Linked DNA regions of Homo sapiens: all the other regions are reported to be linked to region 4. The links are microRNA targets in miRTarBase. Many come from high-throughput screens and were not tested one by one. Region 4 holds a microRNA gene; each other region holds the end of a gene's coding sequence. Distances are from middle to middle.

Region 1 (4,787 bases), 160 Mb from region 4:
GGTAACTCTCCTGTGCTGTTACTGTTGGCATACTGGGGGCACATGGAGGCTCAGAGCCCACACTCTGGCTGCTACCCGTATGGCCACTAGTAGCCTTGATTATGCCGTAAGAGAGATCCAGTCCTTTGCATCCAGGGTCTTCATTAGCAGGTGAACCAGTTAAATAAACAGAAAATATTAGGTCATGAAGTTGTCAGGATGAGGAAAAGCATTGAGTTTTGGGCTGGATATAAAAGCATAGGGTCTTCAGGTTCCAAATAGTCAGGTTAGGATATTACAATGTTAGGATCTCTGCTCCTTTAAAAGTCCATCCATCTGGCCTAACAGCAATAACAATAATTAATAATAAGAATTGAAAACATATGTGTGGCACTTACTGTGAGCTATGAACTTTACATATATCAACTCACTTAGAGTTCTAAATACTTTGTATTTGTTAGTTCATGTAATCCTCATAGCAACCCTGTGAGGTAGGTACTATTATTATGTTCATTTCATAAATAAGCAAACTGAAGCAACTTGCTCCAAGTCACACAGCTCACAGGGGCAAGTCCAGGCAGCCTGGCCCTGGAGTCTATGCTATGCTGCCTCTTGAAGGCCTCTCCCCTCACCCACTTTCCTTCTCAGCTTCCCTCATCTTCTTCTGTCAGTGTGAAGCTAGGAGTGCAAGCTACATAAAAAGAACTTTGCACTTTAAAATTCCAATTCTATGTTATAATCAGAGCTGGAGAACTTCCCCCTGAGATCTGTTTAATAGCCTTAGTAGAAAATCTGCATAACCCCCAAGTTGGGAATCAGTGTTTGTGTCTGGTTTAATGCTGATAAAACAAACAATGGATCAGCTCAGCTGACTGCCTAGCACAGTGTCCCCATTCTCCTGAAGCCTTCCTAGCATGGCTTCAAGGAAACTAAAAGGGGGATCACACACAAGAAGGAGCCCACTATCTTAAATGGCTATGGAGTCAGATCAGAGAGAGGGCTATTGAACTGATTTCTGCCTTTTCCAGGCCATAACTACTGCTCAGTGAACAATGGCGGCTGCACCCACCTATGCTTGGCCACCCCAGGGAGCAGGACCTGCCGTTGCCCTGACAACACCTTGGGAGTTGACTGTATCGAACAGAAATGAAGACAAGAGTGCCTTATTTCCTTTCCAAGTATTTCACAGCAACACTCTACTTGAAGCAACTTGGTCCAGATTGAAAAGTGTCCTCTGGCTGAGTGGCCACTAGGCCCAGACCCAGCCCAGCCTGAGCCCCAACAACTTTTCCCTCACTGTTCCCCAAAACATGCACCCTGGACTTCTCTAATAGAAAAGTCTCCACCCCTACACAAGGACAGAACCCTCCACCCCTACCCCCAACCCTCAGACAGACTTATACACCCCTGAGTGAGGATTACATGCCCATCCCAGTGTCCTAGGACCTTTTCCCAATACTAGCCCCCCAGTGGTGAACAGAACCTCCCAAATTTGAGTTGCACCCTTCCCTGTGGCCTTATGAGCTCAGCCTCGCTTTGAGGTACCCACCGTCCTGTCAGCTCCTTGACCTATGAGCCGGGGCCTGACTAGGAAAAGTTGGGAGTTAAGGAGGAAATTAGCATTCCTTAATGTTTTGTTTTGGTGCTCTGAATTTCTTCTTTATTATAGTCCTATAGTTTTACTCCTCAGTTCCTCACCATCATCATCTTGTCTAAGACCCCCATTATAATATTCATGCGCTGCTTTTTCATCAAAACCTACCCTGTCCTAGAGATCTATGGGCATTTGGTGGATGATAATGAGCAGCCCCTCCCAGATAGAATGTCAATATTTGAGCAGTAGGATATTGGCATTTGTTAGTTAAAGGCTTAAATCAAAAGAATGTCCAATGGTAGGAATTTCAAGGTGTAGGTCAGATATTTGAGAATAGGGGATTTTTTTGATGTGCCTTAAATTATACCAAAGATTACTAATTATTCCTCTTTGCCCAAAATACTTGCATCCAAGGTTCTAGTCTCTGTTGCTGTGCTGGTCTTTAGCCCCACTGCTTGCACTGATGTCCCTCCTTTTCACGGAGACCTATCTGAGGTACAGGATGGGGCTGGCACCAGATGATGTCCCACCACAGTCCCTCACCTCCGGCCTCCACATGACAGAACCAATTTACACTCAACCATGACCTCACCCCTCCTTGGTTTCTCCCTCGATCTGTGGCCCTTTTTGGATGTATTCTTATCTAACAACACAATCCGGAAAGACTGAATTGAATATTTATACTAATGGTTCATATCCTTTATTGCTCAATGATCTAATTAAAGGGATCATTGCCACATTTCATGTTTATATTTCTACAATTTGTTTAGAAAACATCTCCTGACCATATCAGTAGCTCGTGTTATCTTTTTATCAACTGCTTCCCAGAGTCCTAAAACAATAGAAATTTTGGATTGAAAAGTTCAGCATAAGGAGTTTGAGTCAGTAAAGGATGGGATAAAGGAGTCGAGATGATTCAATGAAAAGTATCACAAAAAAGAGATTGATCAACAAGAGAAATAAAAAAGCCCAAGAGGAAGTGGTAGGGGAAGGAATTTAAGAACAGCAATAAGTAAAACTCTTAAGTAACTCCAAAAAGAAAATGGTACATTTTGCCAAAGACCACTTATACTTGAGAACATGGAAGAATTTGCCTGATACTCTCTTTGGGGAAAAGAGTCTCTCCTCTTTTCCTCAAACCCCAGTACACTCAGCCTCTCTGCCCCACCTTCTCCTGACTTTGTCCTCACTTGCTTCTGCAGTACATTGGAACCTGAATTGAAAGAAAGTCTTCCTTGAATAATTGGAGTTTGTCTTGAGAGGCAAATATAGCCCCAAGAATCACAAGATTCGAGGACCATGTAGGTCTTTTACGTAGCCCAAATCCATAAATTAGTCTCACTTTTTGTATTTATCGTTTCATATTAAACCCTCTATATCAAATGTTCATCATGATTTTGTATGATTTTTATAACTATTTTATTCATTTTATTAGATTTATTCTAAAATTTTTTAATGGTAAATTCTTAAACTGTGGAAACCACTGAAGGTGCTTATTAACTGTTCTCCCAGATTTGTACAAGTATTGGATGATTCCTTGAGTTTACAGCTGTACAAATAGTGTGGAAAATAAACTTTTTTTAAAAAAGAAAATCTTCCTCTATCTTTTCTGAATGAAGAGATTTAATGTTGGGAGGCTGATTCATGATAGACAGACAGACAGCCACTTAATAATCTGCAAAACCTGTGGAGCCCAGAAACTCTTATCCCAGTATTATGAGAGCTAGTATGTTTCTCAACCACAAAAAACCTTAGGGGTTGTAATTTACCTAAAAATGAGTGCAGTGTCTCACACCTGTAATCCCAACACTTTAGGAGGCCAAGGTGGGTGGATCACTTGAGGCCAGGAGTTTGAGACCAGTTTGGGCAATACAGGGAGACTCCATCTCTGCAAAACATCAAAAAAAAAAATTAGCTGGGCATGGTGGCACACACCTGTAGTCCCAACTACTCAGGAGGCTGAGGTGGGAGGATTGTTTGAATCCGGGAGGCCAAGGCTGCAGTGAGCTATGATCGTGCCACTGCACTCCAACCTGGGCAACAGAGTGAGACCCTATCTCAAAAACTTAAAAAAAAAATAAAAAATAAATTATATTATAGATTTCAAGCCACCCTTTTGGATATTGTTTTCATTGAGAAAATATATTCTACAAGCAGGCAATAGAAAAAGTTTTCTGATTCAGCTCTGGAGATAAGCTATGTTTTAATTCTCTTTTTACCTCCAGAAGGAAGAAAGATGCTTTCCTGGCACTGGCTATGGAGTGAGACCCCTGGTCTGTTCTAAGCTGCCACCAACAGGCAGTGCCACTCATGCTGGCCCCTGGGTGGGATGAGAATGGCCTCTGAGTTGAACAGAGTGAAGGGGGCTCAGAAGTTGCAGGAATGAGGTGTCCAGAGCTCAGTTGTTGCAGAGAAGGGAATTGGCACCATCAGTGGAGCCAGTATACAGCCTGCCAGTGTGAATTTCTTGAAAGAGACAACTTACATATGTTAGGGCTAAAACTTCCAGTGTTTTATGCTGGCCATAAAATCTGGTTACTCAAAGACGATATCAAGCTCCATGGTGGAGATAAGAAGCTCCTGGAATCTATCCCTCCATTAAAACAATTGAACTGGCAAGAGCTGTCTGATGCAACTATTTTGGAATTCAGGATCTTAGGGAACACTTGCAGCACCCAGGAGAAAGCTTGATGAGGAGGCTGGCAAGTTTTGGTCAATTTCAGCTCTTTACTTAGTGGTGACTACCACCCACCTTGATCAGCCCCAGGGCAGTCAGTTGTGGGGACAGCAGCTCAGGTACTTAGTGTGGCTTGCTGGAGCCAGGTTGGACAATAAAGACCCAGTTTTCCAAAAACCAAGGTTGTGGGTTCTGATTACTGATTGCTGCTTTTGATCCTTGAGGGGCTAGCATATAGGGAAAAATTTTCATGATACTGGGTTTGTCAAACATTTCTTGGACATATCAAAAGCACCAGCAACGAAAGAAAAAAACAGGTAAGCTGGACTTCATCAAAATTAACATTTTTGCATCAAAGGATACTATCAAGAGAGTAAAAAGACAACCCATGGAATGGGAGAAAATATTTGCAAACTCTATATGTGATAAGGAATTAATATTCAGAATATAACTACATTTCAACAACAAAAGCAAACAATTTAAAAATGAGTAAAGGATTTGAATAAACATTTATATGAAGAAGATATACAAATGGCC
Region 2 (4,787 bases), not on the chromosome of region 4:
GCTGACTGTACCACTGCACTCCAGGCTTGGCGACAGTGACACCTTGTCTCAAAAAATAAATTAATTAGAAATGCTGGCTGGGCATGGTGGCTTATGCCTATAATCCCAGCACTTTTGGGAGACCAGGGTCAGAGGACTGCTTGAGCCCAGGAGTTCAAGACCAGCCTGGGCAACATGGCAAGACCCTGTATCTACAAACTTTTTTTTAAAAAAAATAGCTAGGTGTGGTGGCATGTGTCTGTGGTCCCAGCTACTCAGAAGGCTGAGGCGGGAGGATTCCTTGAGCCCAGGAGGTCAAGGCTGCAGTGAACTGTGTTCACGCCACTGCACTCTAGGCTGGTGTGACCATGCTGGGGGGCAAAAAAAAAAAAAAAAGCTATGACATAGCCAAAGTCTTCCTCATAATGTTTCTCAAATGAAAATGCTGGCCAGGAGCAGTGGCTCACGCCTGTAATCCCAGCACTATGGGAGGCCAAGGCAGGTGGATCACCTGAGGTCAGGAGTTCGAGACCAGCCTGGCCAACATGGTGAAACCCGGTCTCTACTAAAAATACAAAAAATAAGCTGGGTGTGGTGGCGGGCACCTGTAACCCCAGCTACTCAGGAGGCTGAGGCAGGAGAATCACTTGAGCCTGGGAGGTGGAGGTTGCAGTGAGCCGAGATTGCGCCACTGCACTCTAGCCTGGGCAACAAGAGTGAAACTCCGTCTCAAATATAAAAAAAAGAAAAGGAAAAGAAAATGCTAAAACCAGTAGTCACATCAAGATATGAGTTTAAAATCCCATAAAAATAAATTACCAAGTAAGATTAATAGAGGCAAACTTTCCATATATATTAAGTGGATAGGGGGAGTTTTAGTCTTCTGAATTTGTAAATGAACAAATATTTCACTACTCATAATGTACTACTAATAGTATATTATTTATAAAACTAGTTCAATAATCATGTTGGTCCTAGGAACCTAAAGAAGACACCAACAAGATCTTCTGTTATACGTAAATTCCTTGTCAGTTTTTATTTTGAAACCGTAGCTTGATCTGTTGTGGGAAACAAAATTCAAGATCAGTTCAACAATGCTGCATCATTAAAAACAAAAAAGCTAGACGTTTTCTAGTTTAAAAAAGACTAGGAAAATATGACCACTAAATGCAATGTGAAATCTCAAGTGGATCCTGGATTCTAAAAAATTATGGGAGACATTATTTGGAAAACTGTAAAAAACTGAGTATTATGTACTATATATTAGTATTAGCTAATATTAAACTTCCTGAGTGTAATAACTGTACTGTATGTAGAAAAATGTCCTTGTTCTTAAAGATACATGCTAAAGTACTTAGTTTATGTTTACAATTGTCAAATGCTTGCAAGCATGTCGGCAAGTAATTGCCAAATGTTACAAATGGGGAATAATATAAATGGAGAGAGAACAAGAGTGACAGCAAGTCAGAAAATCTGGCCAAACATTACTAGGTGAAGGGTATATGGGTGTTCATTGTACTATTTTTGCAAATCTTATGTCTGAAATGTTTCAAACTAAAAGTTGAGGAGACAATCAATTAATCAATTAATAGAAATGCTGCACAATATACATTTCCAGTGATAATTGATATTCAGCTGCAATAATAACAAGTACAATGCAGTATTATTTTAAAAGGAAAACATTAAGACTTAATGGGTTAGCTATAGAATTTACAGTTTTTCAATGTTCACATTTATTATCAAAGTAACCTAATAAAACCATGCATTGTACTGCCAGCCATTGTAATGTGGATGACAAAAATAAGACAGTTCTGGATAATCGCTAAGGCAAATCAAATAATATATATTAAAATCAAAAGGAGGCTCAAATGAAGGCACAGAAGATTTTTAAAGATAAAAGCTTAGAGGGCCAGGCACAGTGGCTCACGCCTGTAATCCCAGCACTTTGGGAGGCCAAGGTGGGCAGATCATGAGGTCAGGAGATCGAGACTATCCTGAATAACACGGTGAAACCCTGTCTCTACTAAAAATACAAAAAATTAGCTGGGCATGGTGGCGGGTACCTGTAGTCCCAGCTACTCAGGAGGCTGAGGGAGGAGAATGGTGTGAACCCAGGAGGCGGGGCTTGCAGTGAGCCAAAAACACGCCACTGCACTCTAGCCTGGGTGACAGAGCGAGACTCCGTCTCAAAAAAAAAAAAAAAAAAAAGCTTAGAGGCTGAGGTAGGAAGATCGCTTGAGCCCAGGAGTTCGAGACCAGCCTATGCAAGACCATCACTACAAAATAAAATAAAATAAAAAAATAGGTGCCTTAGAGTCCCAGTTATTTGGGAGGCTGAGGTGGGAGGATCCCTTGAGCCCAGGAGCTGACACAGGAATGAACTATGATCACACTACTGCCCTCCAGCCAGGGTGATAAAGGCTTTACTTATTTTTTAAAAAAAAATAAATAAGGCCGGGCGCGGCTCACGCCTGTAATCCCAGCACTTTGGGAGGCCGAGGCGGGCGGATCACGAGGTCAGGAGATCGAGACCATCCTGGCTAAAACGGTGAAACCCCGTCTCTACTAAAAAAAAATACAAAAAATTAGCCGGGCGTAGTGGCGGGCGCCTGTAGTCCCAGCTACTTGGGAGGCTGAGGCAGGAGAATGGCGTGAACCCGGGAGGCGGAGCTTGCAGTGAGCCGAGATCCCGCCACTGCACTCCAGCCTGGGCGACAGAGCGAGACTCCGTCTCAAAAAAAAAAAAAATAATAAATAAATAAATAAATAAATAAATAAATAAATAAATAAAAGCTTAAAAGAACGGAGAAATGTTGTATCTTGCCATTTTAAACCTTGATACTATTATTAGCTGGATATTAACAATCACTGAGAGTATTTATTTTAATTATAGTGAAGCCCTACTAATTGTGATCTGTTTTTGATTTTGTGAAAATTCTAGCAAAGGCTGAGGTAAAGATGTATGGTACATTTTCAGAGGGTGCTAAATCAACCTAATAGCATGAAAAATACATAGAGATGAGGGGAGAGGGTTTAAATGATGAAGACAGTCAACTGCGTTGAAACATTTCATATGCCTGCATTTCACTGTAATATGTTAATCAGGAAGAATCACATTCAATTAAAGTAGGCTGCCTAACGGTCTCCTCAGGACAAATGTGTTGTCTTGTGTTAAACTGTCTGATTTCAGGAAGTAATGAAGCTATATTTTAAAATTGATCTTACTAGTTTTCATTATTTCTGACTGGCCTTGACTCAGGCTTTACAGGATTTTGAATTCTCACGGAATATACCACTTCATTTTTATCTAGAAAATGATTTTTCATTTCTCTCTCACAATCATAATTTCAAAGATCATTCTTGGAAAATTAAAAACAAAAGGGAAAATAAGTTACATAAATACTTTTTTGGATTCTTTAACAAAATTTCAAAGAGCAATTTTCAAACTTTCAATTACTCTTTAAAGAAATGAAATTTCCTAAAATTATATAACTCTTACTGGTGGTAGTAATTTTTAACTATTATCGATCCATATAACAGAATGAACAGAAAATACTTATATTAACCCATAGCATAATCATATATTTATTAAACAAGAGCAAAAGAATTCCAGCAAAATGGTTAGTATCAGGCAACACATTTGATTTTTGCACAAAAGACACAAGACATTGTTCTTCACTCACCACATGTTAACTAAGCACAGACTGATGGTTTACTCAGAAGATACCACTGCGAGGTGAAGTAAACTACAAAGCCAGGAAGAAAAAAAGCTTATTGGGTTAGTTTTAAGACTTAATATAACACATAGATTGTATGTGTATATGAAGTTCATAGGATTACAGACTGTACTTAAATTTTTCTCAAATCTCCCCAAATCAAGGGTGTACAGGCAAGGAATAAGGAATCTGTAATACCTCCCCCCATATCCTAGGTAAATATAATATTATGTAGCTGAGATTTTACTTGCAACTTTCATTTGAAGACTTAAACAACGTAATGAAAGGTGTACTGCATATTTTAAGTACATATTTACCAGCTGAATTACGGGGCAATTATTTGCTTTACAAAAGGATCTCTTTCATAATTCCATGAAAGTACACATTAAAATTTGATTTACATAATCTCAATTTACCCTAAAAAGTTTTCGGGAAAATGATGATGAATTTGAAGAGCCATGTGTCTATATGTTGAATTCTCATTCCTAATGTGTCAATTTGATCACTGAATAACTCTCTTGTAATTCAACAATGTATCAGAAATGGTTTCAGGAATGGTGACCCAAACTGAAATTTCAATTTAAGGAAACTCAATCTCAAATATAGTTTTTACTGTGACAAACCTTAAATAAATTCTATGCCCCATTTTAAGATGGTCATTGTCCAAAATCATTAATTACCTTCACGGTGATTTAAAATGGCAGCATTAAAAACAAAGATTGCTTATAAAATCTGAGTCTATTCTTGGATAGTGTGGCCAACCTCAGAAACATCATTTTATTTATCTTTCATATTTAAAGTTAGTAAAAAGCAGCAAAACCAAAAGACAAGCTAGAAAATAATATGTGCAACACACACAACACAATGAGGTTAATATCCTCTCTGGCAGAAGTATACAAAATCCATGTATATGGATGTTCCCTATGTCTATGCTTGTAAAGTACTGAAAATCTTGAAAACATAAGTAAATGGAATGAGGAGGAAACTGGTGAACTAAACTGTAGGACATCCATATAATCATACAATCAGCCATTGAAAAGAATGAGACCAATTTGTAATAAGGTGGAATAATATAAAAATATATTAAGTGAA
Region 3 (4,540 bases), not on the chromosome of region 4:
CCCAGGCTTGGCCCCAGCACCACAGATAGCTGGGTGTGAGACCTAGGGCTCACCCCTCTCCCTGAGTCTCCATTTATTGTTCTTCCTCTTTCTGATTTGTTAAATATTTTTCAATTTTTAAGTGCACAATTGAAAATGTGATCTCTTCCAAAACACTTCACAACATTCCAGGTACACCTAAAGTTCCATGAAGGGCCTCAGTTTGTTCATCTCTGAATGAAAATTGTTCTTCTAGACCTCTTCTACTCTGCTTTGTCTTTGGTCCTGAGCTTCCTAAAAGAAAGGCAGGACTGGGGCCTGGGTGAGATAAGCAGAGTATACCTGAACCACTCCCAGCATTCCTGCATGCCCTCTTATCCTTCAGGTCCAGCTGTAGTTCCTCTGGACGTTCTCGAAGATGCTCTTCCTCTTCTTCGTCATCATCTTCCTCTTCGTCTTCCTCATCCTCATCATCCAGTTCTCGAAGCCGCTCACGATCCCCATCCCCCCGCCGGAGAAGTGACAGGAGGCGGCGGTGAGCATGTGTTCAGGGAGCGCCATGCACCTGGGATGCAGGTGCCTAAGAGTTGAGTCTTGAATTGTCTTATGTTTGGGGGGCTGATGACACCCTCTTTTGTCAGGTACAGCTCTTATCGTTCACATGACCATTACCAAAGGCAAAGAGTGCTACAAAAGGAGCGTGCAATAGTGAGTAGAGGAACAGATCATGGGAGGATGGGGCTTACCCCCTGAGCCTTGAGCTCAGAGAGCTGCCTGCAGCTGTAGCCCTGGCTAATGGTGTGTTGATTTTTTTTCATTTCCAAACATAGGAAGAAAGAAGGGTGGTCTTCATTGGAAAGATACCTGGCCGCATGACTCGATCAGAGCTGAAACAGAGGTTCTCCGTTTTTGGAGAGATTGAGGAGTGCACCATCCACTTCCGTGTCCAAGGGTAAGCTTGGGCCCCAGGCTCAGGATGTTCTTTCTATCCCATTCATCTACCTTGGTGTTTCTTTGTCTTGCCTCCTTGCTCTGGTGTGCTGAGCAATATGGGGCACCTTCATTTCTGCAGTCAGAGGGTTGGCCACTGGGAATGAGAAGAACCACCTCTGTACCTTGGGATGCTGTGTCTCCTCTATGGCATGGGCCCATATAGCCACTCCAGCCCCTGCCTCACTCTCCTCCTACTAGGGACAACTACGGCTTCGTCACTTATCGCTATGCTGAGGAGGCATTTGCAGCCATTGAGAGTGGCCACAAGCTGCGGCAGGCAGATGAGCAGCCCTTTGATCTCTGCTTTGGGGGCCGAAGGCAGTTCTGCAAGAGGAGCTATTCTGATCTTGGTGAGTGGAGGGAGGGCCTAAAGCTTTGGAATGCTTCATCCCCTCCCCAGAAGGGTTCCTAACCCTTTGTGAGTGGGGCTAGGCAGACTTACCTTAGTTTGACATACAAAGAACCCAAGGGGGCTGGGCATGGTGGCTCACGCCTGTAATCCCAGCACTTTGGGAGGCTGAGGCAGGCAAATCACGAGGTCAGGAGTTCGAGACCAGCCTGGCCAACATGATGAAACCCCATCTCTACCAAAAATAGAAAAAATTAGCTAGAGGTGGTGGCACGCACCTGTAATCCCAGCTACTCGGGAAGCTGAGGCAGGAGAATTGCTTGAACCCAGGAGGCGGAGGTTGCAGTGAGCTGACATCACAACACTGCACTCCAGCCTGGGCTACAGAACGAGACTGTCTCAAAAAAAAAAAAAAAAAAGACCCAAGGGGTGGGACGAGAGGAGAAATGGGGACTGGGGACTCTCCTATCTCTTTGACTTAAAATTAGAGCAGTTTTCACTCCATCCGTTTTTGGGATGGGAGATAGCTAGCCATTTGCAGACCCTGTGGTTGGGAAGTGTGGTCAGAGACCTTGAAGTTTGTCTTTACCTTTATAGACTCCAACCGGGAAGACTTTGACCCAGCACCTGTAAAGAGCAAATTTGATTCTCTTGACTTTGACACATTGTTGAAACAGGCCCAGAAGAACCTCAGGAGGTAACCTTGGGCCCTTCCCTGCTATCCTTTTTCTCCTTTGGAGGTGCCCAACCTCCTCCACCCCCTTCCCCTACTCTAGGGGAGAGAGCTGCTAGTGAGATGACTGTTTTATAAAGAAATGGAAAAAAGTGAAATAAAAAATATGTTGAATCAGATTTTTTAAAAGGGGTATTTGTTTTTTTATAACAGGTATTGAAACAAGTTAACTTGCATTCCTATGTAAGATAGGAGGGGCTGAGGGGATCCCCAGTGTTTGGAACATAAGTCACTATGCAGACTAATAAACATCAACTAGAGAGAACTCCCAACTGCTGTTGTGCGTCTTTATATGGTGCTAATGCCAAATGTATTCACTTTTCCTATCTGAACATGGTCCAGGGACATGCCTCTCCCTGGTCAGGTGCAAAAATCCCACTGGATTTGAACCTTGGTTCCTCAGATGTATTGTCTAAAATGAGTCATTTAGGACAGTGCTTCTCAACTTTAAAGGGAATTTGAATCATCTAGCGATCTTTTTAGAATGTAGATTCTGACAATGGGATGATGATACTGGTCCAGGAAGGGATTTTGATAACAAGGACCTAGAGAAGCTCACACTTGTTCCAAAGAAAGGTTTTCTAAACTGCGACAGGTGTATACATTCATCATGTCAGTTATGTTCATCATTTTATAATAGCTTGAGCACACTGCATGGCACAGCAGGTGCTCAAATGTTTTAAATAATGCATGCATGTGGGTAGAACAGGAAGCGTGGGGAAGAGGGAACTGTGGAGTTTTTTGTTTCTGTTTTTGAATTTTTTTGTTTTGTTTTGGAGATGGAGTCTTGTTCTGTCTCCCAGGCTGGAGTGCAGTGGCACGATTTTGGCTTACTGCAACCTCTGCCTCCCGGGTTCAAGTGATTCTCCTGCCTCAGCTTCCTGAGTAGCTGGGATTACAGGCACCCGCCACCATGCCTGGCTAATTTTTTTTGTATTTTTAGTAGAGACAGGGTTTCACCATGTTGGCCAGGGCTGTTCTTGAACTCCTGACCTCAGGTGATCCACCCACCTTAGCCTCCCAAAGTGCTGAGATTACAGGCATGAACCACCGTGCCCAGCTTTGTTTTTGATTTTTGAGATAGGATCTCACTCTGTGGCCCAGGCTGGATTGCAGTGGCAGGATCATAGCTCATTGCAGCTTTGACCTCCCTGGCTCAGTTGATCCTCCTGCCCCAGCCTCCCAAGTAGCTGGGACCACAGGTGCATGCCACTACACCTGGCTAATTTTAAAAATTTTTTGTAGAGATAGGGGGGTTTCACTGTGTTGTCCAGGCTGGCCTCTTAACTCCTGGGCTCAAGGGATCCTCCCACCTAGGCCTTCCAAAGTGTTGAGATAACAGTTGTGAGCCACTATGCCTGGCCAATTTTATATAGGAGAGGGGGGTGTGTTCCCATGAGGATCCTTATCTTTCCTGAGCGGCATTAGTGGGAGGTAGCCAAGGGGTAGTGGGTAGGATTGAAGGGATTGCTAACTGCTAATATCTGGAATGTGGCAGAACTTGGAATTAACTTGGTAGGTCTGAGCATTGATACTGGAGTTACTCATGACAAAGGCATTGATACTGGAGTTACTCATGACAAAGGCAGAGTGTGAACTCTGATCCCGGAGGAAGAAGGGTTATTTTCAACAATCTCTTCAGCTTGAATAGATTGTTGCTGTGTGTGATTCAGGTTTGGTGCATGACACCTTTCCTCTTCATGGAGCTGACCTAAGGCGGAATATAAGGGAGATGGGAGGGGCAGCTTGGGAAATCAACACCTCCCACCCTCACGACGGATAACCCGAAGGATCTTCTGCAGCAGAGGCAGGAGTCTGGAGGCTGGGATGGTATCAGAAAGGGCCTCCCTGGGTATTGGAGGCAGTGAAGATGAAGGGCGAGAATCCATTGGCCGTGCCAGTACGCCATGGGGGCGGTTGGGAGATCTTGTAGAACAACTGTTCGAGCCCGCTTGTCCACTCATTACTCTGGAATCCGAGTCCCAGCAGGGGCGCGGGAAACCGCTGCTCTGAGAAAAGGTACCTCCCCCAGAAAGACTGCGCGGGAAGTCCCGAGTTTTCCCGCCACGCCGAGGGCGTGATCCCTGACGTCAGAGCTCCGCCTCCACAAGCTGGCGGCCGGTGGGCTCCGCCCTTAACCAAGATGGCGATACGCGTGGGACCGGAAAGAGTTTATAGATTTCCCGTCTACCCTACCTCTGAGGTGAAGGTGGGACTGCCCTGTGGAGCCCACCCTTTCCGTTATGCGCCCGCGCGGCGCAATGACGTAACACAGGCCCGCCCACTGCCCCTGTTGGGTTCCTGAGTCGTGCTGCGTCGACAACGGTAGTGACGCGTATTGCCTGGAGGATGGCGGACGCCGGCATTCGCCGCGTGGTTCCCAGCGACCTGTATCCCCTCGTGCTCGGCTTCCTGCGCGATAACCAACTCTCAGAGGTGGCCAATAAGTTCGCCAAAGCGACAGGAGCTGTGAGTTCCGGGCTTGG
Region 4 (4,787 bases):
CCTCAAGTTCAAGGTCTAGGTCCAGGTAAACGGGTACAGGTCAAGGGTAACACCAGTCAAAATGTCAGTATCTAACTTTTTTATTTATAAATTTTGTTTTTCTTGACGAAATAAACTTTCCTTTTTATTTTAAAAATTTAATTCAAATCAACTTTTAAAATAATTTTTCAGCTTAGTACCATACAGTTGTTGTCCAGTATTTTTAGAAAAGTAAAGTCTTAGCATGAAACTTCCTTAACCTATTTTAGCCTCATGCTTTTGACTAAAATAGACTTAAAAACTGAATTAAATTTTTATATACACTTATATTTAATTAATCTAAAGAGATAGCTTACATATAGAAATTAAGTAAAGGGGAGATCTGTATTTTCATTCAAGATGTTAAAGGCTAGCACAGAAATTTTCTAGGCATTAAATCATTGCTTATTACATAATGTTTTTAATAGTTTGCTTTGATATCAGTATTGTGAATAACGGAGCAAATTCAGCCATATTAGTTCTGTTGACTTCATGCTCATAATTTTGAGAAGTCCAGGCGTAAACTAAAACTCTTTTGGTGTACTTGAATATTGTTTGTTGATGTAAAATATGTAATCTCTGATTTTATAGTTAACAATAAAAATAAAATTTTAGGTGAGTGAAAGCAGTGATTTAAATTTAACAGTGTCCTCTTGAAAAACCTTAATCACAGTTAAGTGATGGCATGGGCAATGAATTTTAATCATATTTAGGAATAAAATACTAGATATTAGTGTATAACAATTAGATATATGTTAATTGAGCACTACAAAGCCTGAAAGCTTAACAAAGTGGGGCTATAACTAGTAATTTTTTGGTAAAAATATAGTGATCTTTTTCTACAGGGTATTATTATAAGGGACAAATTATAGTTGTAAATTAGATTAATGAATTTTGTGAGTTTTAAAATTTGTACGAACCATGTCTCCCTTGTGTCATATTTTCCAATAATATAATTACCTAACAATGACAGAATTATACATTTTCCCTTTAATTCTCTAAGCATTGAGTAAACAGAAAAATATAGGGATGAAATACACACATGCCAACATTCAAAACTTTGTACTAACTAGAAACAAAAATAGAAGGGGATTTATAAAGGAAAATGATGGAGACATTTTAGAGAAATTAAGTATAAATCGCAACATTCTGTTTTCTTGGATGTATTCTGGGTAGCTTCTAGTTACTTGTAAACAAAGTATTCATTGTTTTTGTAATAAAGTGATAATGTTTTGTTTTATAGTTGAGTGGCTTTAGGGTAATTTAATCACCTGGAAAGTGATATTTTTTTAATTACCTTTTGTTACTAAATCTTATCTAATTTAAAATACTATGTTTTGAAAGTATATATCTTGTATAGTTATCTTTTTATATGAAAATGAACTCTAATACATATCTTTCTTTCAGTGTTCATATCACAAAGCTCAATTAAATGGTCCTGGAAAAAAAAAATCGTTCCATGTTGTTCCAGGTCCCGTTCAAGAAGTTCTTCCAGTTCGCAGTCAAGATCTCGTTCCAGTTCCAGAGAACGTTCGAGATCTCGTGGGTCGAAATCAAGGTGAATGAGGTAGCATCTCTCTGTAAAGCAGAGAGAAAAATATTTAAAGGCTGCAGAAGGTGTTGCTGCTTTTTTTCCCCTTATTTTGCTTCTACTTGTCGATTTTATTTTAGCATTAGAAAACTAATGCACTTGCCTCAGCTTAATTTTCTCACCATGAAATGTTTCCATTGCCAGCAGTGTGCCAAGACATTCCCATGATTGAAATCAGGTGGCTATTTTGCAATATGCAGCGTTTATTATTTTGGCACTAAGATGTTATGAAGTAGGAAGATGAAGCCAAGTCTTATCGCCACATCTCTAGTATATTAAGATTATATATGGCCAGGCACAGTGATTCATGCCTATAATCCCAGCACTTTGGGAAGCTGAGGTGGGAGGATCACTTGAGGCCAGGAGTTCAAGGTTGTAGTGAACCTTGATCACAGCACTGTAATCCAGCCTGGGTGACAGAGGAGTGTCTCAAAAAAAAAAAAAATTAATAGTAGTTCAAATAAAATTACATATGTAAATAAAAAGAAAAATTTTCTTCATTATTAAAAGGAAGAAAAATAACCCTGCCTCAAAACAGGTCCTGTTTTGCACGGCAGTTGTTTCAATATTTTCAGAAACAAATTTGCCATTTATATCAGATAAAGTTACTAGAGTACTGTATATACATTTTCCTTTCTAATTTTACACACGCTATTATTTATAGAGCACAAAACACTCAAAACTAAATCAGGAAGTATAGTCGGTTAGTTGAGATAGGATGTGGTCTTAAGTAGTAAACAGTGTTCTAAAGTTTCAGGTTGCATGTAGTCACATCTGTAGAGGGAAACATAATTTGAAAGATGCTCTTGCAGGAAATTTTTCTTTGTTTAGTCAAAATATGCTCTCTTTGTTTTTAAGTTAATTTATTATGACCTAAAGGCATCTAAAAAATAAATAAGAAAATGAAATTCCATATTTGTGGAAATTCATATTGAAGTCTAACTGTGGCTGTTTTGGTAAAAGTATTTGCTGCTTTGAATCAAATTTAGCATTAAAGGGCTGCCACAGTATAATCATGTTAAGGAGAAAAGAATGTTGTGCACACTTGCATTATAAGCCAATAAGAAATAGATAACAAGGCCAGGCTCAGTGGCTCACGCCTGTAATCCCAATACCTTGGGAGGCCAAGGTGGGCGGGCTGCTTGAGCCCAGGAGTTCAAGACCAGCCTGGGCAATATAGTGAGACCTCGTCTACTAAAAATAAAAATTAAAACAACCAGCCAGGCATGGTGGTGTGTTCTTATAGGCTGAGGTGGAAGGATCACTGGAGCCCTGGAGATTAAGGGTGCAGTGAGCCATGCTTATGCTACTGCACCACAGCCTGGGGAACAGAGCAAGATCCTGTCTCAAAAAAAAAAAAAAAAATAGAAGTAGAGAGCAAATTATTTTTTATTGTTACCATTATTTAGTAACAATATTTAAGCGCTTTATAGGTAAAAATCCTTAAGTTCTGGTATTCCCTTTGGGAACCATTATAATTAAGGTTTACAGAACACCCATCATATTCTTCCCAAACATTTTTTCATTGCTTGTAACTTTCCAAAGAATTCTCCTTTTGGGCTTTCTGGTTTTATTTTAAGCCCAAAGGTGAATTTTTTGGGAAGTTTGAGCTAAATTCCTTCAACCAAAATATACAAGTGAAGAAAAAAAATTTGTATTTAAACATTTGCACATTTACTTCTACCTGAAGCATGTGAATGTCAACACTTCATATTTCATAAGTAGTGGGTTTTCATAAAAATAGTATTGTAAATATAAATCATCTTAAAGTTAGTTTTTATTTCTTCTTGAATATTTAGCAGTTAAGTACAGTTACTAGTCTTTTGTTGCTGTGCCATATACCTGGTTTTTCCATAACAGTTTAATGAGTTGAATAATTCCACATGGAATTATGTTTATTTTCCTCAGGAAGTGGTATATAAGATACATATTTTAATCCTCAAATGGAAGGATGTAGTTCCTAAACGTAAAGTCCTGTTAATGCAGTTATCTGCTGATTTTATAATACTATAATATTTGTGTATACTTTGAAAAGCCTTAAAAAAAGTTTAAATTCTATTTTGATATAGTAAGCAGGGTTTTAATTACACATGATAGAATTTTAAAGAGACAAAATTAAAATGTTTAAGTAGAATGTTTTCATGGTTGATCCAGAAGTCTTCTGTTGAATAAGCAGTAAGTATTCTTCCTTATAAAATTTTCATAGTTGTTATAAATCCTGTTTATTTTTGGAGCTATCTGATAACTAAATAATCTTCCTTATTTCTTCTTTTAATGAAATGTTTGATTTGTTTCTCAATCAATGAAGATCCAGCTCCAGGTCCCACAGGGGCTCTTCTTCCCCACGAAAAAGATCTTATTCAAGTTCATCATCTTCTCCTGAGAGGAACAGAAAGAGAAGTCGTTCTAGATCTTCTTCATCTGGTGATCGCAAAAAAAGACGAACAAGATCACGGTCACCCGAAAGGTTTGGGTTTCTGTAGAAATAAGAATGGGTGTTCTTAAGTGTGTTTAATAGATAAAGTAAACTTTCCTAGTCAAGGGTTAGATTTTTATTATCTCTTGTGTTCCGACTTTCTACTTTTCAACTTTGAACTTCAAAAAAACATTACTTTGCTTATCCTTTGTACTTTGATCAGGTTGTTTAGAATTGTAGATCAAACCATTCTTTGATCATTTTATTGTTTAAATTTTTAGTTCCATTTATAATTTTTATAGCCAACTCTCGGTTATTTCTGTCTTTTGAGATTGCAATTCAGAAGCTGTATGTCGAAGTAATTTATGAGTTGACTTTTATACTTAGGCTTCTTTAAATACTAATAGTCAAGAATTCTAGAGCATCTAATAAAAAATTAACTTTCAGATCATTGGGAATCTGTCCTCATTTAAATATGTGTAAATGCATTTCCACAGCAAATTGCTTCATGCCCTTTGTCTATAAGGAAATTATTCCTTGTAGCTAATACATTTTTCATTTTGCAGTCCAAATCTTTTTTGAGAAAGGCCTATATTAGGTTACTTTATCTGTACTGACACTTTTAATATTGGAAGAATGCAACTGTCATCTGTCAGCCTTTTCTGCAACAGGCTAATTACTCAGTTTCATTAATTTTCTCTTTGTTCCCAATTATATAGTCATTTTAATGGCTTTATTTGTAGTCTTTGCAAATTTTTCATA
Region 5 (4,787 bases), 55 Mb from region 4:
AGAACATGCCTTCTGCAGTTCATGGAGAGGCTACATGGGACGCAGGCCTGGAAATTCAGCTTCCTCACCACCAGGCGTGGTTAGATCCTCCCCACTGACTTGTGCGCTGGTAAGAGACCATGGATAATGCAAAGTGGAGCATATCACCATGCCAGGATCACCACAAGGACAAGGACAGACAGACAGACCAACCAGGAATACCACTTTTAAGGGGGAAGGAAAGAGTGAAGCAGAAGGAAACCCAGAATGACAAGGTGAAAGAAAGGAAAGGGAAACATCTCTTTGTTCTCCATTGGCTGGTGGCTTTCTGTCCTCCAAAGTCAAGGCTTCTTAAGTTGGTTTTCTTTCTTCCTCCTCCTCCTCCTCTTTTCTTTATTTTAAAGAGTTCCAACACAGTTCCTAGAATAGTTCATGGTTTTCAGCTGTTGCTGTAAAACTCGAACATTAAAATCAAATCAATCCACAGACAGCTGGGAGGAGAGTAAGCCCAGTATGCCCTAAAATGAAATTTAAGCTTGTTTCAACACCAAATTTGTGCTCCCAAAGTGTAGGGTAGGGTGAGGTTGTGGAGTCCACCAACCAAATGAAGGGTGGAAATAGGAATGAAAACACAAAACCCGCTCTGCTGTATAACCTGTGAAATAAGAGAACAGGAAGCTCTGTCCAAGAGGGTAGGGAGAGACTAAAATTCTTAAGTAAGATGGACAAGGTGACCAGTGAAGTCACTAGGCCATGGGAGCTCTCAAAAGGCACACTTGCAGGAATGGAAGGGGTTAAAGCTTCAAGTAGAAACAAAATGAATTTTCAATAAATACGGATAAATATTTGCTTCAGGTGCTCCTGAGGGTTAAAAAAAATTTAGTCTCATTTTTCTCAGTGAATTTTAAGACAAAATTGGTATCATGTGAAAAATGGGGTCATGGTTCAATCTGGCCTGACTGCAGCATCCACGGCATTGTGGAAATGCTCGCCTTGGCCGAGACACGTGAAGTCCCACCGCACAGGTGGCTTCAGGAGGCCTGAGGAGACAATCACCTTCACTGTGTTGAATCACTTTCCCATGGTACACGCCCACAGTGCCCAGGAGCTACCAAGACCAACCATAATGGGGGCAGACAAGGCAGATTTTTCTTAAAAAGCTGTAAGCAAACAGTCTGGTTCCAGGCAGTATGCGTCAAACTGGAATTCAATGGAGTTCAGAGGAACCAGATTACTTTCTAAGACAATCAACATATCTGTTGCCTGCCTACTTGGGGGAAGTGGAAGGAATCAACACGTTAACAGCTGGCTTAGGAAGGCCACAGGACTAAGGGAAAGACTGTAAGGTTGAGATTCTGTACTTTCAGGTTTCTAATATACTTTATATTTAGATAGGAACTACTGAGTTTGGAGGCACAGTCCATGCACAAACACAATGTCCTAACACAAGGTACAGCAATAGCGGTAACACCTGAATTGCTAGCCTTCTGGCCCAGCTTTCCCTTGTAAATAAGGACCCCACATGATCGAACAGTCTTTGCCAAGCAAGGATTGGCAACAGCACCAGAGCCTGAGTCGCGAAAGGGAAGTGTGGAGCTCCAAGCAGTTGGATGCCACATAAGTAGACACATGTTGTTTCCTCATTGAAGGGAACACAAAGAGCAGTTTCTGGAACACATACCCCTCCCCACAAGCTAGGCTTGGCACCAGGGTGGCTTTCCTACGAAGACCACATCATAAAAGCTAATGGCTAAGGGAAAGGATTCAGCATGATGTAACAGGAGAAAACACACTTATCAGTACACTTAGGCTGCCAGATGCTGGCTGAAAGCCAGGACCCAGGGCCAGCTGCAGCAGGCTTTGTGCCTGAGAAACGCTAATAATAAAAAGAGGAGTGTCAGGGTGGCAAGGTGATGTTTTGAAATTAGGATTTAAATTTCAAAACAAAACAAAGGCAAAACAAAAATCCTCTTTCCACTGATGAGAAATCACCAAAAATCCCTATTTAAATGGTGCCATTTGAAATAAACTTATTTTGACATCTCCTATGCCCAGGCCATGGTTGAGACTAGTAACTTTCTGTATCAAGCAAAGAAATGCTCTACTTGGTTACACCTTAATCTCAGAAATGAAGTGAAAGTAAAAACCCAAGCCCTATTTGGGTGACACATGAAGAAGACAAGTGCAAAGGATGGAGCTGTTTCTGAGGTCAGCCATGCGTCAAGAAGTCAAGTACATGATTCTCAACTCCATCACCTGCCAATAGCCAGGAAGAGGAATATATGTCACCACAAGGAAAAAAACATTTCTAAAAAGAACTGTTATTGGAATTCCCTTCCAGAATCAATTTCCACATTCTACAAATATGGGATGAGTGTGCTCAATGTGCTTTGGAAGTAAAAAGAAGCCCATAGGGAAAAAACAGTATCTTTTGATGCTTGCTTCAAAGATTTCTCACAATATTGGCATCTTAGAATTCCCTACTGGCCCCCTAGTGACACCAGGGAAAGGGTTCCACAAGTATTTCTAAGCAGCTTCTGATTTCTGTAGGCACCTGAGCTTTGTAAAAGAAACAGAAAGTCAGACAGGTTTTAGGACTTCACCACATATGAAAAAAAAAAAAGAAAAGAAAAAAGGTAGAAGAAAAAAGCAGCCTGTAAGTGAATGGAAAAGGCAGTTTCCAAGTACCATGTTCTAAGGGAAGAAAGAGGAGAATAAATATGTTTTTTGGCAACTTGCCACCAAATATGATTGATTGTCAGAAATTTCCACAATCAGACACAAAATGTTTTCTGAGACACACAAGAAGCACTCCAAAGACCAATGGACACTACTAGGCGGTCAGATGTTGGCTGCATAAACATTATTTCACAATGACCCGGCACACAAATGTGGAATAAAATCCTTTGTTGGGTAACTTTCCTCAGCCATAAAAGGCAAGAGGGGGCCAGGCACTGGCATTTCTGCAGAGCTGTCACAGGTCCTCTGTGGTTTTAAGAGAAGGGGAAAAACAGTTACTTTTACCCCGACAGCACCTGAAGCATGAGAGTCTAAAACCCTCCACCTTTGCAACTTACATATGCCCTTTCATTTTTTAACTCCAAGAAGGCCACATAAAGATTTACAGGGGGCTCTTCAGTTTCTTTTGGGAAGTTACTGATGTTAGTCTATTCTCTAACTTCTTGGTCTAGTTACCAGCAAGGTAGAAAAAGGCAGCCCAGCCCCTGTTAAAACACAGCAACAACTTTATCTGAACCAGGATGGAAATCTCTCCCTTTTTTTGTCAACAGAGTTGGCTATATAATATATATATATATATTTATATATAATTTTTTTTCTTAATGGAGATTTGATCCCAGCCTGGAGTGACTTCGGTTGGGAATTAAAGAGTTTTGGCTTCTGGGAGTAATTTTGTTTTCCCAATTCTCAGTCCAAATGCTTACACACTGGAAAATTCCAAATTAAAAGCCACAGAAAAGGAAAGGGGTTTAGAACACATTATCTCTTTGCTCGTACAAAGTACAAGGCGTTTGTTTTTGGATAGTACTTCACATTCTGTTTCTTGTCCATGAGTCCTCCAAATATGATGAGTTCACCCCTGCCTTGTACCACGGTATGCAGGCTGGTTTCAGGAGGTCCAACCACAGAACTGCTATTAAATACTTTCCATTTGACCCGCCCCTTCTCCTTGGTGTCTTTAATGTCCAGCACGTACATCTGCATGGGCTTGCAGTTCATACTCTGGTATAGGGGTTTGCCAACATTTAGGGACTGTGGAGGGTGGTGGCCCAGGCGGCGAGCAATGGGAGGTAAGGAATGTCCATCTCCTTGGGCAGGCCCTGGGCGAGGGATGGGCACTGTTTCTCCACTGCTCAAACTCTGGCTCCCAGGAGAGCCTGGAGAAGACCCAAGAGGAGGACTTAGTGCTGCAGAGGCCGAGGGGCCTTTGGAGGACATCGCTTTGATGGCTTCCAGACTCCGACGCAGGGCACCTGGGGAGACGGCCCCTGCAAGGGCACTGGCCACGTGAGGTGGGGTATGCACACCATTTGTCTGTTCAGGAGGGTGTCTCATACTTCCCCCAACTGTCCTATTGTCCATGCCATCCATGGGATTACTACTGGAAGCGGGTTTCAGATCCCAATTCAGATCTATGGATCCTAATCTCAGATCTTTCTGATCTGGTAGTGATCCTCGTCGGGGGGCCAAAGAAAGTCCTATTTTCAGGTCGTATCCTTCAGGAGCAGATGGAGTACTTGGAGATATGGCCTGTACAGGACTGTCCAAAGAAGAGCCACCCACAGCTGCCGTTCCTGGAGACAAACTCCCACCATTGAGGATAGGAGAGCCGTCTCCTCTGGCTGGGGAAAGGCTCCCTTCCCGGGAACCTGAAGGAGTCTGCCTTTGAGCCCTGGGTCTCAGTGTTCCCCAGCGGCCGTTAACACAAGGAGCTTCATCCATGCTTCTTACTGGAGACTGAGAGCGGTACTCTCGGGTTTCAGGAACGAGAGCTGGAGGAGTGGCACTGATAGGTGATGGGCGAGAGTTCAAACTGGGGCTGAGTGGGGCTCTCCCACTAGGAGCCTGGCTGAAGACCACCACACACTGTCCCACCTGGAAGACAAAGGACCAGTGCTCACACTCTTCTATGATTCTGATTGTTCATTCAACTGTCAAACATTTTATCATGAGCATCTGTCATGTGCCAGACATTTTGTAGGTACCTGAGATATGAAGATGAAAATGATGTAGTCTGCCCTCTAGGCTAGAAGTCAGACATGGGAACAATCGCTGCTTTGTGTGACATA
Region 6 (4,787 bases), not on the chromosome of region 4:
TAATCTAATTTAATTCATAGTTAGGTTACGCCACAGGATACTGTAGGTACACAGGTTAGGAATCCTTTCCTCCCTCCATATTTTTAAAAAACTGATGCTAATGAATCTTCTACCTGCTTTTTGTGATTTCTTTTTCTTCATGCTTATGCCACCTTTTTCTCAGTTTCAGTGAAGCCATTCTGTCTTCACGAGAAGGAATACAAAACAGTTGTCATTAAAGTTACCAACTTGTACAGCCACCAGAACCAGTGTTCTTTGATAACTGTTACTTTTTTCTTAGATTATTTTAAATGGAAATCGCTTTTTCTGTTTCCTCTTGAAACATTTTACTGCCTGAAAAGAATTCAGATATTTGTTTTTTCCTTATTACTTGATAATACTTTCTCATGTGAAATTTGTTGGCAGGATATGCCTTTAAAAACAGTTATTTTACTTGTTGAAATTATAAATTGCATATTATTAAGATTATTTTTGTAACATGAAAAATTGCAACCAAATATTTTACCTTATACTAGTAAATTCAAAAGTCATGTGAATTCTCAGCACTATTGACGTTTACACTCACAATTAACTAAAAGTACATAGTCTGAAGAAATTGTTGCATATTTTAGAAGTGTTTGATACATTCCCAGGGCACAATTTATGTACTAGGAGAATTTTTCCCATTGTTTTTATATTTGTACTAGTACAGTAGCATTGACCACTTTGTATCCTTGGGTGGAATGAAAAATGGGATATGGTTGTCTTCCTCAATTAGGGATAAATTCTAGCTGTAAAGACTTGAGGAAATACTTTATAGAATTTAACACATGGCAAAATAGAGGCTCAGGTGCATCTTTAAATTACAATAGAGGACCATGAAACTTAGGATTGTTGTTTCTTTTGTCTTATCTAACAGGTACAACAAATAACACTGTGACTCCAACCTCACAACCTGTGCGAAAGTCTACCTTTGATGCAGCCAGTTTCATTGGAGGAATTGTCCTGGTCTTGGGTGTGCAGGCTGTAATTTTCTTTCTTTATAAATTCTGCAAATCTAAAGAACGAAATTACCACACTCTGTAAACAGACCCATTGAATTAATAAGGACTGGTGATTCATTTGTGTAACTCACTGAAGCCAAAATACTATCTTTTAAGATGTCCCACATGGAAGACGCTATTCCAGGATCTTTAAATTTCCATGGATGCATATAGGATGTTTGGGAGCATCATCCGTGAAGAAAAAATCAATTAAATCATTGTGTTCAACAGGAATATTTAAAATATTCTGCATGAATCCTGTGGCTGTCTTATTTTAAATAGCTGCTGCTGTGGGATTATATTTTTTTTCCTTAACATGCCAAATATAACTTTCTGAAAGTGATGGAAAATGTTGTCTTGTGCAGACAACATCATGGCTCTTGGCAGTTTAAATTTAGTAATTTTAATTTAGTGAACAGAATTGAGAAGAACGTGCCAAATGAGAATCAATTAGGTGGATTTTTGGCTGTCATTTCAAAAGTGGAATAAATTTATTAATTTAGTAGTACTAAATGGTATCCTTAGATTAAAATTTTGTGCTTGATAACAGCTGTTTTTTCTACATTAGAAATAAGATGCCACACAAGGAACTACATTCCAGATTTAAAGAAATGAAAGGATACCATTAGTGTGTATAACAGATTATTGTTCATACTTGTAAAGCATCTTATGTCATTGAGAATATAAAGAACAGTGCCTTAGAAGACAGTGAAAGGTAAGCTCTAGCTTAATGTCTATGATTTGTTCTTTGACATTAAGGAAGGTAAGGATTGGTCAGAGGATGTAACTTGATGTGAGCAGTAGTAAACCTGTTTTAGATATCATACTGTTAATATTTTATTGAAAATTTATTTCAGAGCGGAGAAACTTAAGCTAAAGTCTGTTATACAGAATTGAAAGCCTTCGTATCTTGAACCTCCCAACATTTTTCTTATGGCTGTTGAAAAGTATAGAGCTAAATTGATTTAATTACACTTTCCTTTGTACTTTAAAAAAAAGTATGCTAGCACTATTGTACCTTGAAAGGATTTCCACCAGACTGTCTTGAGTAGTGACTTCTTTGGTGAGGCAAGAAGGATATACATTATTTTAGAATCATTTACTATTTAAATGAGACAATCATATTATTTTAGAATCATTTATTTTAAATGAGACAATCATTTTAAGTTTTAAGATAACAGAAGTGACCAATGTAATTTCACAACACCTAAGGATTTTTTGGTTGATCAGGTTACTGTAGATTTTTACTGATTGTCCTGGATGAATAGACTGTGCTTTTTCTTTTTCTCTCCCTTCCTTCTTGGTTTCCCATAGTATAATAAGCATGCATACTTTAACTTCTATAGTTTTCTCCTTTAGAGGGTCGTCTTCAGTTTTAGAGGTTTACTTCTCCCTTGCCTTTGACTCATTGGACTAGTGCAGAGGCTTTAAGTAGTTTAAAATGGGCTTTTGCTTTTCTAGGTCATTAACGTTTTTTATTTAGTTTCTTTAGCCAATAGTGGCTGAGTTTCGCACTTGATTTTCAATATTTTATAGTAAGAAATGACAAACTGCTTTGTTTCATTTCATAAACAAACTCTGCATTTAGATAACTATTAAAGGTTGTTAAGATGAAGATTTACTGTTTCTTTGTTACTCGTTGGTACAGCTGTTTGTTTTACTTGCACATTTGTACATATACTTAATGTTTTCAAGTGCCTTAATTGTTTAAAATCTCTGGCTTCAAAGTTTCTTGGGGAAAGGTCGGTTTACCTCACATTTTTTGTTTCCATTAGTAATATTCTAGGTACCTCACAAAATGTATTATGGTGCCATGGCTGTTAGTTTTTAGTGAGTGCTGTAGGATTAATTCGAAAATAGGCAGAATTCCATTCCTCCCAAGGTGGCAAAAATTAGCTATACTGATGTAATTGTCATTTACCTGGGTATGAATTCCCTGACACACATTCATGTCAACATATGTAGCAAATTTTGTGAAAACATAACAATTTGAAGCTTCTGTAATTTTGAGCACTGCTCTAACAACAAGCATAATATAAAATTAGTTAGATTTTGCAAGTCTACAAATGAGCTCTTGCAACAGAACTCACAGCCTTTTTACTTTTTTCCCCTAACTTTAGCAATGTAGTATCTTGAGCCATTAATTTTTGGGTTTTTTTAAAATCCAGAAGGTATATAGAAACCTTTTCAGATTTTTCATCTGATTTGTTCTTGCAGATGTTCTTCTATCAAATACCTTATTTTACCTTACAGATATTTGTTGCACAGGCAGATACTGCTGTATTTAGACATTTCTATTTCAGTTCATTAAAAACTGCAAAACCAATCTGTATCATGTACCAAACTGACTTAAAATAAATCTACATGTTTATTGAATTAATAGTGTGTTACTGCGTTTTGCTTATAAAATTTAATGCTTAGTGGATTTATCTTAGTCCGCTTGGGGTGGGCTTTCTACTCATTTTATTGCACCTCTAGACCAGCCGATAGTAACTAAGGCACATGTTCATATCAATAGAAAGCAGAGCCTTGGAAGTAATAGGTGGAGGGAGGACTTGGTACACTTGTGGGAGTGATTTGCAAGTTGATCTTCCACAAATCAATAGAAATTATGCTGTAGTTTTCCAATAATTTTTGAGAGGAATACTATCTTGGTTTTATAATCTGAAAGCTAGTTTGTGACTTTCTGCCTTTTTAGTTCATATTGCATATAAAGTAAAAACCAAGAACTATTTGGTATAAATTACTATCAAGCCACATGCTGTGACTTTGAAGTGTGGTTCTTGTTATTTTGTGGGCAAAATTATGTTCTATTTTATATCAGTGGACTTGAACTAAGAATTTACTCCTCTGTAAGCCTTAAAACCTGTAAGGGTGGACTGAATAATTCACTTTAGAAATCATGAATTTTGGGTTTTGTATTAGCCTTAAATATAGTCACATTTGGTTTAAGTAATACAAAACTTGATGCTAAGCTTAGTGACTCTGGTAAACATTAGAAACAATTTTTTTTTTGAGATGGAGTCTCACTCTGTCGCCCAGGCTGGAGTGCAGTGGCGCGATCTCAGCTCACTGCAGCCTCCACCTCCCAGGTTCAAGCGATTCTCTTGCCTCAGCCTCCTGGGTGGCTGGGATTACAGGCACCCGCCACCATGGCCAGCTAATTTTTGTAATTTTTAATAGAGATGGGGTTTCGCCATGTTGGCCAGGCTGGTCTCGAACTCCTGGCCTCAGGTGATCCACATGTCTTGGCCTCCCAAAGTGCTGGGATTACAGGCATGAGCCACTGTGCCTGGCCTTGTCCAGTGTTTTTTAGTCATTCAAGAATCCAGCCTCATTTCATCCCAGCTGGAAGAAAAAGTTCAACATAGTGTTTATAATGTATTATTTTTAAAATTTTCAATTAGTACATAGATTTTCTTAAATATACTTCTTAGAAAAGAAATTGCATTTAAATATTATAGATGTGGTGTCAGTCTGCTTTGACCATCCCCAGCCCTTTTCTCCTCTTGCCTTCCTCCGCTTACCAGAGTGGTGATACAGAGGTAATCACTGTAACTGGTTTACAATTAATGGATTTATAATCACATAATTGTATGTACCTTTGGAAAATAATGTCATGTAGGTTTTTTTTTTAATCCTGTAATGTTCATTCACTTTTTGGAGATCTTTCAAAGGTAGTGTATGTGGCTATACCAAGTTGTTTTTTTTTATTTTTTAAGTTCTAGGGTACATGTGTACAACATGCAGGTTTGTTACATAGGT
Region 7 (3,000 bases), not on the chromosome of region 4:
AGCTGGGGAGAGATGAAGGATCACTTTCGTGTCATTTATAAATCTTACTCATTGAAAACAATCGACTTCCCGATGCAATGTAGTATCCCAGAACAGAAAAAGGGCCTTAGTGGGGAAACTGGTGAAAGCAGAGAAAAGTCTAGTTGGTAGTGTTGTACCAATGTTACATTTCTTGTTTTGGCAAATGTACGAAATGTAGTTTTCGTGGTTGTTTCCCAGTTCATAATTCTGTCCTATACATTTCTTCTCCCTCCTCTGTGTGGAACTCACACAGAAAACCTTGAACATCTTCCATTGTTTCCTGTGCCTAGCATGCCTCTCCTGCTCTTCCTGACCTCGGAAGCTGTGCTCCTCTTTCAAGGCCAAGCTCTGAAAGAGTTACTTGCTCTGGAAAGCTTTCCTAGACCTCCCCCTCAAGTGTTCTCCTGGGACATTCTATCTTTATTAGTGCTAGGGACACATGGCTTTGTTTGATTTCTACCAACTAGGTTGCCCAGAAAGTGGACTCCAAGATGAAAACTAGATGCACGTTTTTTAGGGATTAACACTTGTGGAAGAGGAGGAATGCAAGGCTGGGACGGGGGAGGAGGTGGGCTGCGTGATGTAATCCTAACAAAAGCCTCAGCAGACCCCACAAGCTCAGAAGCCACCATGTCCCTCAAAGTTGTCCCAAATTGGGGTAAGAGAAATAGCGACCTGAGATTTCCAGCCCATTACTCACTAGATGTAGGCTACCCAGGGAAAAGGGCATGACTTTGGCTAACGCAGCTCTCCTCTGAAAAGGCACTGCCCAGAGGGCTAACCAGCTGAAGGGTGTTTGTCAGCAACACTTCTAGCAGCTGAGGCAGAAAGGCTTCAATCTGGAAGGAGGGTGGGGTATCACATCTCCTCTATGTCATCCCTCACCCTGCAACTGTAATCGCTATATTCCCAGTGCAAGGCCTAGAAAACAATGTTCCAATTGGAAAGACTGAAGGTGCTTTGGCTCTCTGAAGGCAGAGGCCTGGACCACAGGATTACATGTGGTTTCTTCCCACACTAAGAACCAAGTGTGTTTCTTCCTCACCCGGTTCCCAACAGCAGAGAGAGAAAGCTTCCCTTTGATTAGAGACTAAGAGCCTCAGAAACCGTTAAGATGTTCACCCTCCATTTGACAGTGAGAACCATCTGGGAGACAGCAGATTTCATTCTTAAAGGACTAACATTTCTCAATAACCTTTTAGGTCTTTCGTCTTTTCAAGCAAATGAATACTTTTATTAACATGGTAAGTTTTTGTTTGTTTTAACATGGTAGGGTTCTGACCTCAAATATTTGTTAGGTCTGCTACTCAAATGAACTTACAGCTGGACAACGTATGAACCTTGAAGATGCCTCTTCTAGTCCAGTTTAGGGTCCAATGCAGACAGTTCCATACTGTCATCCCCAAGCCCCTCAAGGGCCTTTGCCAATCTTTCATTTTATGCCAAGTCCTCTAAAACGCATCAGGGTATTACATCAACTTGTACAGAATATCAAGATCTTATCTTCTATTTTAGGTTCCATGTCAAATAAAGCTGAGTTAGGTTGTCCAAACAAACTCACCAGACAGGTTACATAAGATAGTGTACCACAACAAATTTAAATTTTGAACAAAACACATCTCTCCTCCTTTGGTCTCACACAGAAATTAAAGTCTCCAAATACAGACAATACTATCCATTCTCCAGCTCTTCTCCAGATTCACGAGTCCCAGCCAGGTCGGCCCATCCACACTCCCCGTTGAAGTCTGGTCCTTTCTTCAGTAGTTGCTGCATGGAGTCGTCTTCCAGAATTAATGCAGCTCCTTCAGCACCTCCAGAGCTGGAGAACTCCAACTGTGAGTCTCATGTGTCACACACAGACCCAAAGTTCCAGGGAGCTATCAGGTCACACAAGAAATAGCAAAGCACCTCAAAAATTTAGAAATAACCACCAAAGCCCGGGAACAAATGTGACTGCTGCAAGAGCTTACAATCTAGGCCCTAATTCCTGTATGTGAGAGCATTTTCAAACAAAATTACTTCCCAAACAAAAACACGTTAACAATCGAAACTCATATTGAGGTCATCAACCACAGACCATAGCAGAAAACGTAGTGTTAAGTGAGACAGAGCATAGACAGGAAAAAAGAGAAAACAAAAGGCTCTCTGGTTTCGGCTTCTCCAGGGTGTCAGCCAATCTCCACCAGTTGACCAGAATCCATTGGCTGGAAACCTAAAGCACAATGGGAAGAAATTCATCATCGAGAGGTTAATCCCAGGCACAACGACCCCCAAACCCTCACGAACGCCACTGTGCAGGACGCCACCTCTTCTGGCCACCACCTGACTCACTCCAGTCTCTAGCAACGTTGACTTGTCCAACGTCTTCCCCGAAAATCCTCTATTTCCACCCCCGCTTGCTGGACGGCCCGGGACCTTGTCCGTTTCTGTTTCCTTGGCGACTCTGAGATTTATGACCCTTCCACTGAACACGCATCACGCCCAAACCCGGCCACTCTGATTATCCCACGCCGCCACCGTCAAAAAACAAAACACGAAGACGGGGCCCAGATCGGCCCTGACCCGAGCACGCCTTTATTCTCCCGCCCCACCCCCGATTCCGGTGCATCTCGATGAAATCATCGCTCTCGAAGAGCGGCCAAGCTGGGGCCGCTCCTCGGCCTGGCGCGGGTGCCCGACTTACCGCCGACCGCGCTCACGACGACTCGCTCTTCTCTATCCGCCGGACCAGCTCCACCAGCATCTCTGCCATCTTCGCAATCTCCTTGGCCTTCTCCTCGGCCTTCTCGCACCTCTTGGCCGCCCGGCCCTCGGCCGCGTCGCCCGGGTTCTGGAGGTGGTTGAGGGCGCTCTCCTCCGAGGCCTCCACCTGCGTTTTGATCTGGATGAGCATATTGTCCATCTCCCACAGCTTGCTCCGGTTCCGCAGGTACGCCCGCCCGTGCTCGCGCGTCAGCGACGCGATGTCCTCGCGCATCT

Evidence for each region. Region 4 holds the annotated microRNA hsa-miR-186-5p (CAAAGAAUUCUCCUUUUGGGCU, at 3,150-3,171, shown strand). A microRNA usually pairs through its seed, bases 2 to 8, with sites in the 3' UTR of a target mRNA and lowers its output. Matches are read on the target gene's strand: a 7mer-m8 pairs with bases 2 to 8, a 7mer-A1 pairs with bases 2 to 7 and ends in A, and an 8mer does both.
Region 1: miRTarBase lists NID1 as a target of hsa-miR-186-5p. Seed matches in the 3' UTR shown: 7mer-A1 at 1,636-1,642.
Region 2: miRTarBase lists GOLGA4 as a target of hsa-miR-186-5p. The part of its 3' UTR that is shown has no 7-base or 8-base seed match.
Region 3: the mRNA of PPRC1 is a reported target of hsa-miR-186-5p. The part of its 3' UTR that is shown has no 7-base or 8-base seed match.
Region 5: the mRNA of FBXO42 is a reported target of hsa-miR-186-5p. The part of its 3' UTR that is shown has no 7-base or 8-base seed match.
Region 6: miRTarBase lists CD164 as a target of hsa-miR-186-5p. Seed matches in the 3' UTR shown: 7mer-A1 at 2,507-2,513.
Region 7: the mRNA of MRFAP1 is a reported target of hsa-miR-186-5p. The part of its 3' UTR that is shown has no 7-base or 8-base seed match.

The regions. Positions count from the first base shown.
Region 1 is chr1:235,974,209-235,978,995 of GRCh38, reverse strand. NID1 (nidogen 1) reads left to right here. Exons shown (of 20, transcript NM_002508.3): 19 at 1; 20 at 1,008-3,166. The coding sequence ends at 1,129. Among named protein-coding and RNA genes, the nearest start is that of LINC02768, 4.1 kb to the right of the region's middle.
Region 2 is chr3:37,360,181-37,364,967 of GRCh38, reverse strand. GOLGA4 (golgin A4) reads right to left here. Exons shown (of 24, transcript NM_002078.5): 23 at 3,663-3,725. The coding sequence ends at 3,696. Among named protein-coding and RNA genes, the nearest start is that of APRG1, 19 kb to the left of the region's middle.
Region 3 is chr10:102,148,008-102,152,547 of GRCh38, forward strand. PPRC1 (PPARG related coactivator 1) reads left to right here. Exons shown (of 14, transcript NM_015062.5): 10 at 365-514; 11 at 621-687; 12 at 810-931; 13 at 1,171-1,322; 14 at 1,919-2,326. The coding sequence ends at 2,022. NOLC1 (nucleolar and coiled-body phosphoprotein 1) reads left to right here and starts at 4,382. Exons shown (of 13, transcript NM_004741.5): 1 at 4,382-4,523. The coding sequence starts at 4,404. RefSeq lists enhancers at 3,868-4,540, 3,973-4,272, 4,443-4,492.
Region 4 is chr1:71,066,065-71,070,851 of GRCh38, reverse strand. MIR186 (microRNA 186) reads left to right here and starts at 3,136; the gene lies at 3,136-3,221. ZRANB2 (zinc finger RANBP2-type containing 2) reads left to right here. Exons shown (of 10, transcript NM_203350.3): 7 at 1-25; 8 at 1,490-1,576; 9 at 3,918-4,076. It overlaps ZRANB2-AS1 (ZRANB2 antisense RNA 1), which reads right to left. Exons shown (of 3, transcript NR_038420.1): 3 at 3,668-4,086. RefSeq lists a silencer at 2,300-2,349.
Region 5 is chr1:16,247,193-16,251,979 of GRCh38, forward strand. It overlaps FBXO42 (F-box protein 42), which reads right to left. Exons shown (of 10, transcript NM_018994.3): 10 at 1-4,593. The coding sequence ends at 3,478. Among named protein-coding and RNA genes, the nearest start is that of CPLANE2, 12 kb to the left of the region's middle.
Region 6 is chr6:109,365,129-109,369,915 of GRCh38, reverse strand. CD164 (CD164 molecule) reads left to right here. Exons shown (of 6, transcript NM_006016.6): 6 at 899-3,402. The coding sequence ends at 1,065. Among named protein-coding and RNA genes, the nearest start is that of CD164, 15 kb to the left of the region's middle.
Region 7 is chr4:6,640,963-6,643,962 of GRCh38, reverse strand. MRFAP1 (Morf4 family associated protein 1) reads right to left here. Exons shown (of 2, transcript NM_033296.3): 1 at 2,705-3,000; 2 at 1,234-2,233. The coding sequence ends at 2,717. Among named protein-coding and RNA genes, the nearest start is that of MRFAP1, 1.8 kb to the right of the region's middle. RefSeq lists a silencer at 2,241-2,310.